Homo sapiens: one gene and its partners. The protein of the gene in region 1 interacts with the protein of each later gene in a biochemical or structural test. Each region holds a gene or a part of one and is shown in the gene's direction. Other genes may lie near its edges. The genes, in order: CARM1, MEF2D and GRIP1.

What was found.
Region 2: the proteins of CARM1 (region 1) and MEF2D form a complex in vitro, tested with the Homo sapiens proteins (one study listed by BioGRID).
Region 3: the proteins of CARM1 (region 1) and GRIP1 form a complex in vitro, tested with the Homo sapiens proteins (2 studies listed by BioGRID).

The regions. Positions count from the first base shown.
Region 1 is NC_000019.10:10,916,414-10,920,235, forward strand, and holds part of CARM1 (histone-arginine methyltransferase CARM1), read left to right. Parts: coding exon 1-84; intron 85-282; coding exon 283-364; intron 365-3,181; coding exon 3,182-3,267; intron 3,268-3,463; coding exon 3,464-3,553; intron 3,554-3,822. UniProt on the Homo sapiens protein: Methylates (mono- and asymmetric dimethylation) the guanidino nitrogens of arginyl residues in several proteins involved in DNA packaging, transcription regulation, pre-mRNA splicing, and mRNA stability.
Region 2 is NC_000001.11:156,466,176-156,469,775, reverse strand, and holds part of MEF2D (myocyte-specific enhancer factor 2D), read left to right. Parts: intron 1-755; coding exon 756-996; intron 997-1,476; coding exon 1,477-1,783; intron 1,784-2,119; coding exon 2,120-2,131; 3' UTR 2,132-3,600. UniProt on the Homo sapiens protein: Transcriptional activator which binds specifically to the MEF2 element, 5'-YTA[AT](4)TAR-3', found in numerous muscle-specific, growth factor- and stress-induced genes.
Region 3 is NC_000012.12:66,350,416-66,354,237, reverse strand, and holds part of GRIP1 (glutamate receptor-interacting protein 1), read left to right. Parts: intron 1-674; coding exon 675-821; intron 822-3,822. UniProt on the Homo sapiens protein: May play a role as a localized scaffold for the assembly of a multiprotein signaling complex and as mediator of the trafficking of its binding partners at specific subcellular location in neurons.

The DNA.
Region 1 (3,822 bases):
GTTTCCTACCATTGGTGACGTCCACCTTGCACCCTTCACGGATGAACAGCTCTACATGGAGCAGTTCACCAAGGCCAACTTCTGGTGAGTGTGCCCTGGGTGTCCCGCCTGGGCCCCACAGCCTGCCTTCTCAGGGACAGCCCCAGCTCCCCAGAGAGCCTGCACTCCTCTTTTTCTGAAAGACTTGGGCTAGATGAGGGCTGACTGGGAGAGAAGGCAGGGCTACCCCACCTGCCTCTTCTGCAGCCCTGACCTTGCTGTGGGGGTGGGGCCTGTCCACAGGTACCAGCCATCTTTCCATGGAGTGGACCTGTCGGCCCTCCGAGGTGCCGCGGTGGATGAGTATTTCCGGCAGCCTGTGGTGGTGAGTAGGGCCTCCAGGGTACTGCTGCAGTGATCACTTGCCATTGCTGTGCAGCTGTGCAGCCCTCAGGAAGCTACAGCCCCTCTCTGAGCCCTCTCCTCTGCCCTGCACAGCGCTCTCACAGAGATTTGGGCCAAAAGTGTCAATGCATGTAGACACTTAGCACACAGCACACATGCAATACATGTGGAACATTATTAGGTGAGGCTAAGGCAGAGGGGGCATTTAGGCTCAGGAGTTCAAGATCAGCCTGGGCAACACAGAGACGCCATCGCTATTTTTAAAATTAAAATAAATAAATAATAAAAATAAAAAAGAACCATTACTAGATGAATTTATCCTTGGTGAGCTGATGTGATTTATTGATTGATTTTACTTGAGATTTTTGATACATAGATCCATGATTTAAAAATCAAAAGGAAAAAAAAGCTAGGTGCAGTGGGTCACACCTGTAATCCCAGCACTTTGGGAGGCCAAGGCGGGCAGATCACGAGGTTAGGAGATTGAGACCAACACGGTGAAACCCCATCTCTACTAAAAATACAAAAAATTAGCCAGACGTGGTGGCGGGCGCCTGTAGTCCCAGCTACTCAGGAGGCTGAGGCAGGAGAATGGCGTGAACCCGGGAGGCAGAGCTTGCAGTGAGCCGAGATCGCACCACTGCACTCCAGCCTGGGCGACAGAGTGAGACTCCGTCTCAAAAAAAAAGAAAAAAAGGTTCCATTTTATTCTGTTTTCCCCCTGCTCTTGATGTTTTTCATTCGTTTTGGGAGACTCTTGGACTATCTTGGATACTATCTCTTTAAACACTACGTCTGCCCCATTCTTTCTCCTTCTGGGATTCCAATTACGTGTACAGTGAACCTTTTCACCATATCTCAGATGATTGTTATACTCTTTTCTGTCTTTTCCATCCATTTTTTTCTCTCATTTTCTTTTTCTTTTTTTTTTTTTTTTTGAGACGGAGTCTTGCTCTGTTGCCCAGGCTGGAGTGCTGTGGCATGATGTCAGCTCACTGCAACCTCCACTTTCCGGGCTCAAGCGATTCTCAGACTCCTGAGTAGCTGGGAGTACAGGCGCTTGCCACCACTCCCAGCTAGTTTTTTGTAATTTTAGTAGAGATGGGGTTTCGCCATGTTGGCCAGGCTGGTCTGAAACTCCTGACCTTAGGTGATCCGCCTGCCTCGGCCTCCCAAAGTGCTGGGATTACAGGCGTGAGCCACCATGCCCAGCGTGTTCAGTCTTTTGTGATATCACTGGGGAGTGAATGAGTGAAAAAAGCAGGAAATATTTTGGTGGTATTATGCAAATTTTGTATTATGATGAGGGTGCCTTGGAAGAGGCCACAGTTTGAGAAGGTGCTGCTTTATGGTACAGCCTTTGGTAATGTTAATGCAAGTCCAGTGGTTAGCCTCATTACCAATATGCTGCTGAACCACCCGTTAGCTTTTATTGTTTTTTGAAACAGGATCTCACTCTGTTCCCCAGGCTGGAGTACAGTGGCTCAATCACTTCATGGCTTACTTCAGCCTCGATCTCCCAGACGCAAGTGATCCTCCTGCCTCAGCTTCCCAAGTAGCTGGAACTATAGGAGTGTGCCACCATGCCCGGCTAATTTATTTTTTTGTAGATATGGGGCCTCACTGTGTTACTCAGGCTGGTCTTGAACTCCTGACCTCAGGTGATCCGTCCGCCTCGGCCTCCCAAAGTGCTGGGATTATAGGCATAAGCCACTGCACCTGGCGTTGAGCCTCTTATTAGCGGCTTTCTGCTTGGTGTCTTAGCCTCTGATGCCCTGCCTCGCTCAAAGCTCAGGAGTTGGCCAATTTCACAAGCGCACTGAGTGTGCACCGCCCACCTTGCCCTCCTGCACTTATTTCCCTTTGCTTTGACATCACAGCCCCTTGAATCCGAGCTGCCTTGGTAACCCTGAGCTCCCATTTTGCTTTCCCCACCCAAGGAAGCTGCTGAAAGGTCGAGGTGGCCGTTTTCTGCCCTCCCCATGGGGAAAAGGTAGAGGCCAGAAAGGGCTCCCTCCAGAAAGGGCATTTCCCTCCTTTCCAGGAGCTTGATCCCCAAAATCCTGGCCGCTCTGGTTGGTCACCAGTGCTTCCAACAACTGGTTTATTCTTTTCTTTGGATTTTATTCGGTTTACATAGTTCATGGCAGGTGTGTTAGTCGGATATAAACATTGCTGGGAGTGGACAGCAGCACTAGTGTTGTTGTTGTTTTTAAGAGACAGGGTCTCCCTGTGTTTCCCAGGCTTGATTCACACTCTCGGGCTTAAGCGATCCTCCTGCCTCAGCCTCCTGAGTAGCTGGAGTTACAGGCATACAATTCCACACCCAGCTAGCACCTAGTTCTTTAACTTGCTTTTTTGGTTAACTTGCTTAATGATTTAGCTTGGAGATCTTTCCTCATCTGTTCATAAAGAGCCTCTTCATTCTTTCTCACGTCCGCATGGTCTTTGATGGGAGAGCCATCACTGGTTTAATTAGATGGTTTCCAGTGTGTCGCTACCACGGACAATCTAATTATACATGTAAGTTTGTTGATGTGTTCATGTATCTGGAGGTTAAACTCCTGTAGTGCCAAATCTTTTATGTGGATAAACACTTGTCATTTGGAGAGCTGTCACCTGATTGCCCTCGGTGGCGTTGTGCCGGTCCCCTCCTCACGGCGTGTCTGGGAAGAGCAAGCTCGTTTTAGCTGCACAGCCTAGAAGCCGTGGGCAGACCTGGGGGAAGGGGCAGGGCTCTCCCCTCCCATGCTGGCCCTGGCGTCAGATGCCACGTCACACCTGTGGTCTCTCCCAGGACACATTTGACATCCGGATCCTGATGGCCAAGTCTGTCAAGTACACGGTGAACTTCTTAGAAGCCAAAGAAGGAGATTTGCACAGGTACTGGCACCCACACTCCATCCTCCCAGGCCTGGCTCAGGCCGAAGGTCAGGGCCACCCCTGGCTCCCGCCGGCATCCTGCCGTCCCAGGGCAGATGGTGGGCGGGGGCCCCAGGCCTCTGCACCTGGCACCCCCTCTTCTCTCTCGGCAGCGCCTGTCTGGCTTCCCCAGCAGCCACTGCCCTTTGCCTTCCAGGATAGAAATCCCATTCAAATTCCACATGCTGCATTCAGGGCTGGTCCACGGCCTGGCTTTCTGGTTTGACGTTGCTTTCATCGGCTCCATGTGAGTGCCGCAGAGCAGCCCATGCTGCCTCCTCCCCACTCCCAGGGCTTCCTGCAGCTGCAACCTGGCTGGGGGGGTGGAACATGGCTCCAGGTTCCACCATCCCTTCCAATGGGAGTGAGAGCCTGTCTCGGAGCAAGAGACTGTTGTGGGTGGGGTGTGTGTGTGTGTGTGTGTATGTGTGTGTGTGTCCTGTGTTCCCAGTGTCTGTCCCTCATGGGTCTGTGTCTGTCTCTTGGCACATGTCAGGGTGAGTAGGGATCTCGTGG
Region 2 (3,600 bases), on another chromosome or scaffold:
TAACTGGAACTACAGTGCACCCCACCACCCTAGCTAATTTTTAAGCTATTTGTAGAGATGGAGTCTCCTTATGTTGCCCAGTCTGGTCTCAAACTCTGGGCTCAAGTGGTCCTTCTGCCTTGACCTCTCAAAGTGCTGGGATTATAGACATGAGCCACTCGCCCAGCTGTTTTTTTTTTTTTTTTTAAGTTCAACACTATTTTTAAAAACCACCTCTTGGTCGGATGCGGTGGCTCATGCCTGTAATCCCAGCACTTTGGGAGGCCGAGGTGGGCGAATCACTTGAGGTCAGGAGTTTGAGACCAGCCTTGCCAGCATAGCAAAACCCCATCTCTACTAAAAATACAAAAATTAGCTGGGCGTGGTGGCATGTGCCTGTAATCCCAGCCATTTAGGAGGCCGAGGCAGGAGATTTGCTTGAACGTGGGAGGCAGAGGTTGTAGTGAGCCAAGATCACACCACTGCACTCCAGCCTGGGCAATAGAGTGAGACTCCATCTCAAAAAAACAAAACAAAACAAAAACCACATCTTTTCATCCTGTTAAAACACAGCACCTCATGGTTATTATGACTTAGGTTTCTTTAACTCTGAGTACCGTCTTCACTGAATTTTTGTGGTCTTCTTGAATTCCTTACATCTGTCATTACACACTCCCTGTCCCCTCATCCCCACAGTCCTCCTGGAGGCAGCTCCCTCATAGGAGCCTGTGTGCTCTCCCCAACTCCAGGTTCATCCTCACTTTTCCTCCATGCAGATTACCAGTTGACCAGTGCAGAGCTCTCCTCCTTACCAGCCTTTAGTTCACCTGGGGGGCTGTCGCTAGGCAATGTCACTGCCTGGCAACAGCCACAGCAGCCCCAGCAGCCGCAGCAGCCACAGCCTCCACAGCAGCAGCCACCGCAGCCACAGCAGCCACAGCCACAGCAGCCTCAGCAGCCGCAACAGCCACCTCAGCAACAGTCCCACCTGGTCCCTGTATCTCTCAGCAACCTCATGTGAGTCCTGGGGAGACTGCATGTGAGTGTGTGGGAAGGGAGAATTGAACGGGAAGAGGAGGGACCTCTTGGGAGCTGGGTTCCCTGCAGGGTTCTAGTGGACATCCTATGAGGCTGTGCACTGCACAGTCTGTTAGGCAACAGTGGCACCCCTGGGCTCTCTTGTACAGACCCAAGAGGCTCACCCTGAACCCCTTCTGAGAGCCAGCCCCAGGGTAGGGGGTGGGAGGTGGGGGGCCCTGTGTTGCAGAAGATGACATGGGATGGAAAGAGAACTAATATTTCTTATTTCCCTTCTCTTCCCTTCATTCGACCCTCTTCTGATCACTCTCCATCCAATTGCCTCTCCCCAACACCCCATCCCCCATATTCTCATCCTCTTGTTCTCTCTCACTTTCTGTCTGGTGTCCTATCACTTGTTCTGTCACTCACCCCCTCTGTTTTTATCCCTTGTACCCCATTTCCATTGCCTGCCTCCAGCCCGGGCAGCCCCCTGCCCCACGTGGGTGCTGCCCTCACAGTCACCACCCACCCCCACATCAGCATCAAGTCAGAACCGGTGTCCCCAAGCCGTGAGCGCAGCCCTGCGCCTCCCCCTCCAGCTGTGTTCCCAGCTGCCCGCCCTGAGCCTGGCGATGGTCTCAGCAGCCCAGCCGGGGGATCCTATGAGACGGGAGACCGGGATGACGGACGGGGGGACTTCGGGCCCACACTGGGCCTGCTGCGCCCAGCCCCAGAGCCTGAGGCTGAGGGCTCAGCTGTGAAGAGGATGCGGCTTGATACCTGGGTACTGTAGCATCACCTCTCCTGTCTGCCAGTGTCTGCTACACCCAGGGACTGCCCCGCGTGCCCCCTAACCTGTTTTATTTCCCACCCAAGAGGCCTTGTGGCCGGCTACCCCTTCCGCCAGCCCTTCTAGGGCAGCACCAACACCCCTTCACCCCTGCCAAAGGCCCATCTTCTCCCTCCCTCCAGCATCAGTCCTTCTGCTCGATGACTTCTTCCCCTCACAGCTGGCCCTGCCACTAGAATCCTGGCCCTATGGGGAGAGGGGAGTGGGGGGTGCATACCCAAAGCCTGGGCCACCCCCTCACACCCCCTTCTCCATCTCCTCTCTTCACAGACATTAAAGTGACGATTCCCACTCCCCTCCTCTCAGCCTCCCTGATGAAGAGTTGACAATCTCACCGCCCGCCCTTCCCTGCCCCGGGCTCCTCCCGCTCGACCCCCACTTCCTTTCTTGTGCTTCGTGTCCTGTTGACGGTTACATTTGTGTATAATTATTATATTATTATTATTATTATTATATTTTTTTTAATTTGGATTCTCGCTTTGGAGAGGGGGATGCTCTCATCCCCTCTTTCTGTACCCCCCACCATTTTCACTGGCTGGGGGGCTCTCTTTTTCGCGGGAAGGGGGGACACTTTGCACGTTGTACACATATGCTGCAGGAAGGGGGTGGGGGGCCCAATAAGGCCTTTGGGAAAGGACAGGTGCCGAGCCCTGCATGTGGAGCCCTCCCACCCCACCCCCAGATAGAGGGAAATAACCAAAAAACTACCAAACAACAGAAACCCACACTCTAGACTGAAACCCCAAAGTGGGCTTGATGGGTGGGTTTGTGTTTCAAGGGGAAAGTGAGGCAGAGGTTCTGAAAAGGGTCTCTGTTTTTGTGTTCATGTAGCCATAGGCACATGGAGCAGAATACTTAAGCCTGGCCCCCAAATGCCCCTGCACACACACGTGCCACACCTGCGCTGATTCTTGTGTGTGCTGCACCCCCAAGGTGTGTGGGTGCTGGCTGAGCTTTGGGCCGGGAAGGCAGCCTGGGAATCTGAGGCTGGAGACAGGGGTTTGAGGTGGGGGCCTCTCTGGAAGCACATTTGGAGGGAAAGACAAGAGAGCCATGAGGAGAGGGCTGAGGAGGGCAGAAGGGCTAGGCAGGGGGCAAATTGAGCCCCTCCCTTCCCCAGTTTTTCTCTAAGATATACAGTGCAATAGCTCCCCACCCCTCAGTTGACGCCAGCCCTGTAAAGCTGGCCACAGTGTGCAGGGAGAATGGGGAGAGGGTCTTCAGTGAGGTGGCTGGGGCGAGAGTCGGCCTGGACTTCCCTGGGGTGCTCCAGGCCAGAGCTCTTTCATTGGGGCGAGTGTGGTGAGGGGACGTCCTTGGTCTTGCACGCACACTACCTGGGGGAGTCAACACTGGGATGGTCTGTGGGGTGGGAGGGCCTACGGATGGGTCCGTAGAGGTCCCACCTCCCTCATTCCTCCTTGGCCCCTCTCCCTAGCTTCTCCTGTTAGCTCCTTCTGCTCCTGACCCCACCTCCTTGCTCTTGGCGCCCCTATTGTCTCTGGCTACCTCCTTGTCCCACCACCTCCAGGCTGCATCCCACCTTCCCTCTTGGCTACTGTAATTGTAAATAGCGACCTTTGGAAAACGTTAGCGGTGTAACAGTCCAGGAAACTGTTTTTTTTTGTTGTTGTTGTATTGATATGAAATGAGATTCTATTTTTGTCAAAGTATATTGTAATAATAATGACTCAAACGGCCCGTACTGTACAGACGAGATTCTTCTGCTGTTGTTCTTGCTCCCCTCCCCT
Region 3 (3,822 bases), on another chromosome or scaffold:
AGAGACCCGGGGTGGGGGGCAGGCCGCAGCACTCAGGGTAGATGCCTTCAGTTACCAAATCAAACCCTAGACAAATGCTGAGGGAGCGAGTTAAGCCGAGGTGCAGAGCAAGGTGTTGTCATAGAGACACATTCAGGTCTTTTACATAGTGTTCTGTGATGGTGCTCATTGGGGGTTCCAGAGCAAATAAAAGGATGAACTTCATGGTACTTGCCCAAAGAGAGGATACGCCGAGCACTGTGCTTAGCAGAGCACCAGGCAGGAGTGGGGAGGAAGGAAAGGCCTTTGGCTTATTCCCCAACATCTCAGCAGTTGTAAAGGGCTGCTGCGGGCAGCTCCTCTGACCAGAGGTTGCCCCAGGAAAATAGTAGAAGTCAACTTGCCTTGAGGAAGTTCTCTCCTATATCCCCCTGATGACGACTGAAAAGGAGGGAGGGAGGACCCAGACGTTCCAGTTCTCCTCCTTTTTCAGCTTTGGTTGGGAATTCATAAAGTCCAAAGATATTCTTGGAGTGGGAAAAAAAGGCTGCAGGATTGGTGCAGGGAGCTGACTGATGCTGATATTACAAATCATGATGTGACTAAATTCGTGTGAAAAGATTGTTCATCAAGAAGTTGCAGAAGGAAAAGTCTCCACCCCAGCTAAATATTCACATCCCATTTTCTCTCTTCAGGTGACCTTGTACAAGGACTCTGACATGGAGGACTTTGGGTTCAGTGTAGCAGATGGCTTACTGGAGAAAGGAGTGTATGTCAAAAATATTCGCCCAGCTGGGCCAGGAGATCTTGGTGGCTTAAAGCCCTATGACAGGCTCTTACAGGTAAGACCTCAGGTGGAATTTTAATTCCTTGCAAGTAATTTCTCACTGGGAGCTTCCTCCACATCCTCCTGCATATTTGGGGCCCTTTGCTCTTTTCCCTTTCAGCCTTTGTCATCAAGATTATGGAATCAGTAGAAGCAAACAGCTGAATAAAGAATTTTCAGCTCTAGTAAATTCTAACCCAGACCCCAAAGTTCTGTGGTTTCTTACCAGTTTTTTTCGGCACTGAGCTCAGAGCCATCTTTCCCAATCTCACAGATTTCACCCAACCACGGTCATCTCCCACCATCGCACAGTAGTCCCATAAATATGACGTAGTTATCCGACTCCAGGCACCACCAGTCTAGTCCTTCCTACCACTTGTCTTCTACATGACCTACAAGGCCCCAGGGATTTGGCCTCTCCTTACCTTGCCAGCATCTTGTCTTGCCTCTTCATTCATTCATTCATTCATTTTTGAGACAGAGTCTCGCTCTGTCACTGGAGTGGAGTGGCGTGATCTTGGTTCACTGCAACCGCCACCTTGCAGGTTCAAGAGATTCTCCTGCCTCGGCCTCCCAAGTAGCTGGGATTACAGGTGCCTTCCACCACACCCAGCCAGAATGCAATTTGCTAACTAATTGGAGGGTTGATGACGGACCTTTTGAAGTTGATGGAAAGTTAGTTAGAATCTTTTTTCCTTTTTTTTTTTTTTTTGAGACAGAGTCTCAGGCTGGAGTGCAGTGGCACGATCTTAACTCACTGCAACCTCTGCCTCCTGCATTCAAGTGATTCTCCTGCCTCAGCCTCCCGAGTAGCTGGGATTACAGGTGCACACCACCATGCGTGGCTAATTTTTGTATTTTTAGTAGAGACCGTGTTTCACCAGGTTGGCCAGGCTGGTCTCATACTCCTGACCTCAAGTGATCCACCCACCTCGGCCTCCCAAAGTGCTGGGATTATAGGTGTGAGCCACTGTGCGCAACCTCTTCGTATACTCTCTAGCTTCAGCTGGATTTGTTTCAGGAATGGTGTATGCTGCCACCTCCTGGCCTTTGCACCTGCTGTGCCCTGAGCTTGTGGCGCTTCTCTGCTAAACATGCACAGGCTCTTTCCCTGCTCCTTCCTCTACTTCAGGTCCCTGCTCACATGCTGCGACTTAAACCACTCCGTCTAAAAGGGCCTTTCCTGCCTCTCCATTCTTCACCCTTCTTTCTTGGTTCGCAGTACAACCACAGATGATGCTAGTTATTTGCTTATTCTGTGTTGCCCACTAGAATGTAACTCCATGAGGGCAGCGATTTTATTCTCCACTCTATTCTCAGTTCCAAGAACAATGCTGTCACATAAAAGTGCTCAGTACTGCACAGCAGAATAGAAGCGCATTGGCTCTGAGCCTTATATACTCTTTCCTTTCTCTGAATGCTCTTCTAATCCCTAGGCCTTACCTGCCTCATTCCGACTCAACTTTTTGGTCTCACATAGATCAGCGATTCTCAACCTTGATTGAAAAAATGGAATCACCTAGAGAATGTATCCCAATGTTCAATCAAATGCCAGACCAATTAAACCAGCGACTCTAGGAGACAGATACGGCATCGGTGTGTTTTTACACCTCCCCCAGTGATTCCAGTGAGCAGCCAAATTGAAAACCACTAGTTTAGAGGACTCCCCTTCAAAGCCTAACTTCACCAGACACCACCCAACCTCCTTTACCTCAAGTCTGGACTAGGGGCCCCTCCTATATCGAACAGCAGCTTTTGCTTTTGGTAGAATTTACATTATTAAAACTGCCTGTTCAGAGGTTGCAGTGAGCCGAGATCATGCCACTGTACTCCAGCCTGGGTGCAGAGTGAGTTTCCAAAAAAAAAAAAAAAAAAACCACCTTCCTGTTTCCCTGCATATACTCCCCAGCAGATTGTAAACTTTTTGAGAGCAGGGATAGTACCTTATTCTCTCATTTCCCATTATGTGGTATTTGATATCTCAGTATCTCTCACAATATCTGAAACCAAAAAGCTGAACCTTGCTTACTTTAAATATAGTAACATTGAGGTCAGGTATAGTTTTATTTAGGAAAGCAGATTTCTGATCTTATGTACAGTTTTTGGGAAGAGCATTTTGCAGGAAAATGGAGTGGGTTGAAGTCAGTCTTAGCAGTGTACTCACCTGGAAACAGTTTGTCACCAAACAGCTGACTTTCAAAGCAGGAGGCTGCCACTCATTGGTTGGCTTTCAGGGATGTGTTCGCTGAAGCAAGTTGTCACTGATCAATTTGATAGTTTTGGAATCAATTCTGGTGATGATTTTTACTATGGCAATAGAACAATTAGTCTTATCCTAGGAGTTTGGGGACACTTAGTTTTCCGCAGACATGCTAATATTTGCTGAATGAATAACTATGGACAAGTTACTTACCTTCTATGAGTGTCTTCCTAATCCATAAATAGAGCTAGCTCTACTCTCATCGCAGTTGAGGCTGTAAAAGTAGACTACATTCAGATTATAAAGGGCCTTGAATGTGATGGTAAAGCTCTTGAACTTTATGCTGGAGGCATATTAGTTTCTTAAGCAGGATAATGATATAATTGGTAACATAGAAAGGCAATACAATATTATTATGGGTTTATCGAAGGTGGGTTGGGGAGGAGAAGATCACAGGCAAGGAGTCCAGGTAGGGGTAGGTAAGATAAGACAGCTCTTTCAGAACTAATGAGTCTTTAATATTTTCAGCACATTGTGATAGAGCAGTCTGGGAAGCATTTGGTGGTTTGGATCTGTTGGTGAGGAGAGATATTAGAGCCAGAGTTAAAGATTTAGGATACTGAAGGGTGGGGTTTAGGACAAGTTGCCCTTGGTGGCCTTATAACAAAGAAGAGAACAGAACCAAGGATGGATTCTAACAGTAACAAAATGTATCTATGTATTTATTTATTTCAGACAGAGTTTCTCTCTTGTCATCCAGGCTGGAGTGCAGTGGCGTGATCTTGGCTCACTGCAACCTATGCCTCCCAGGTTCAAG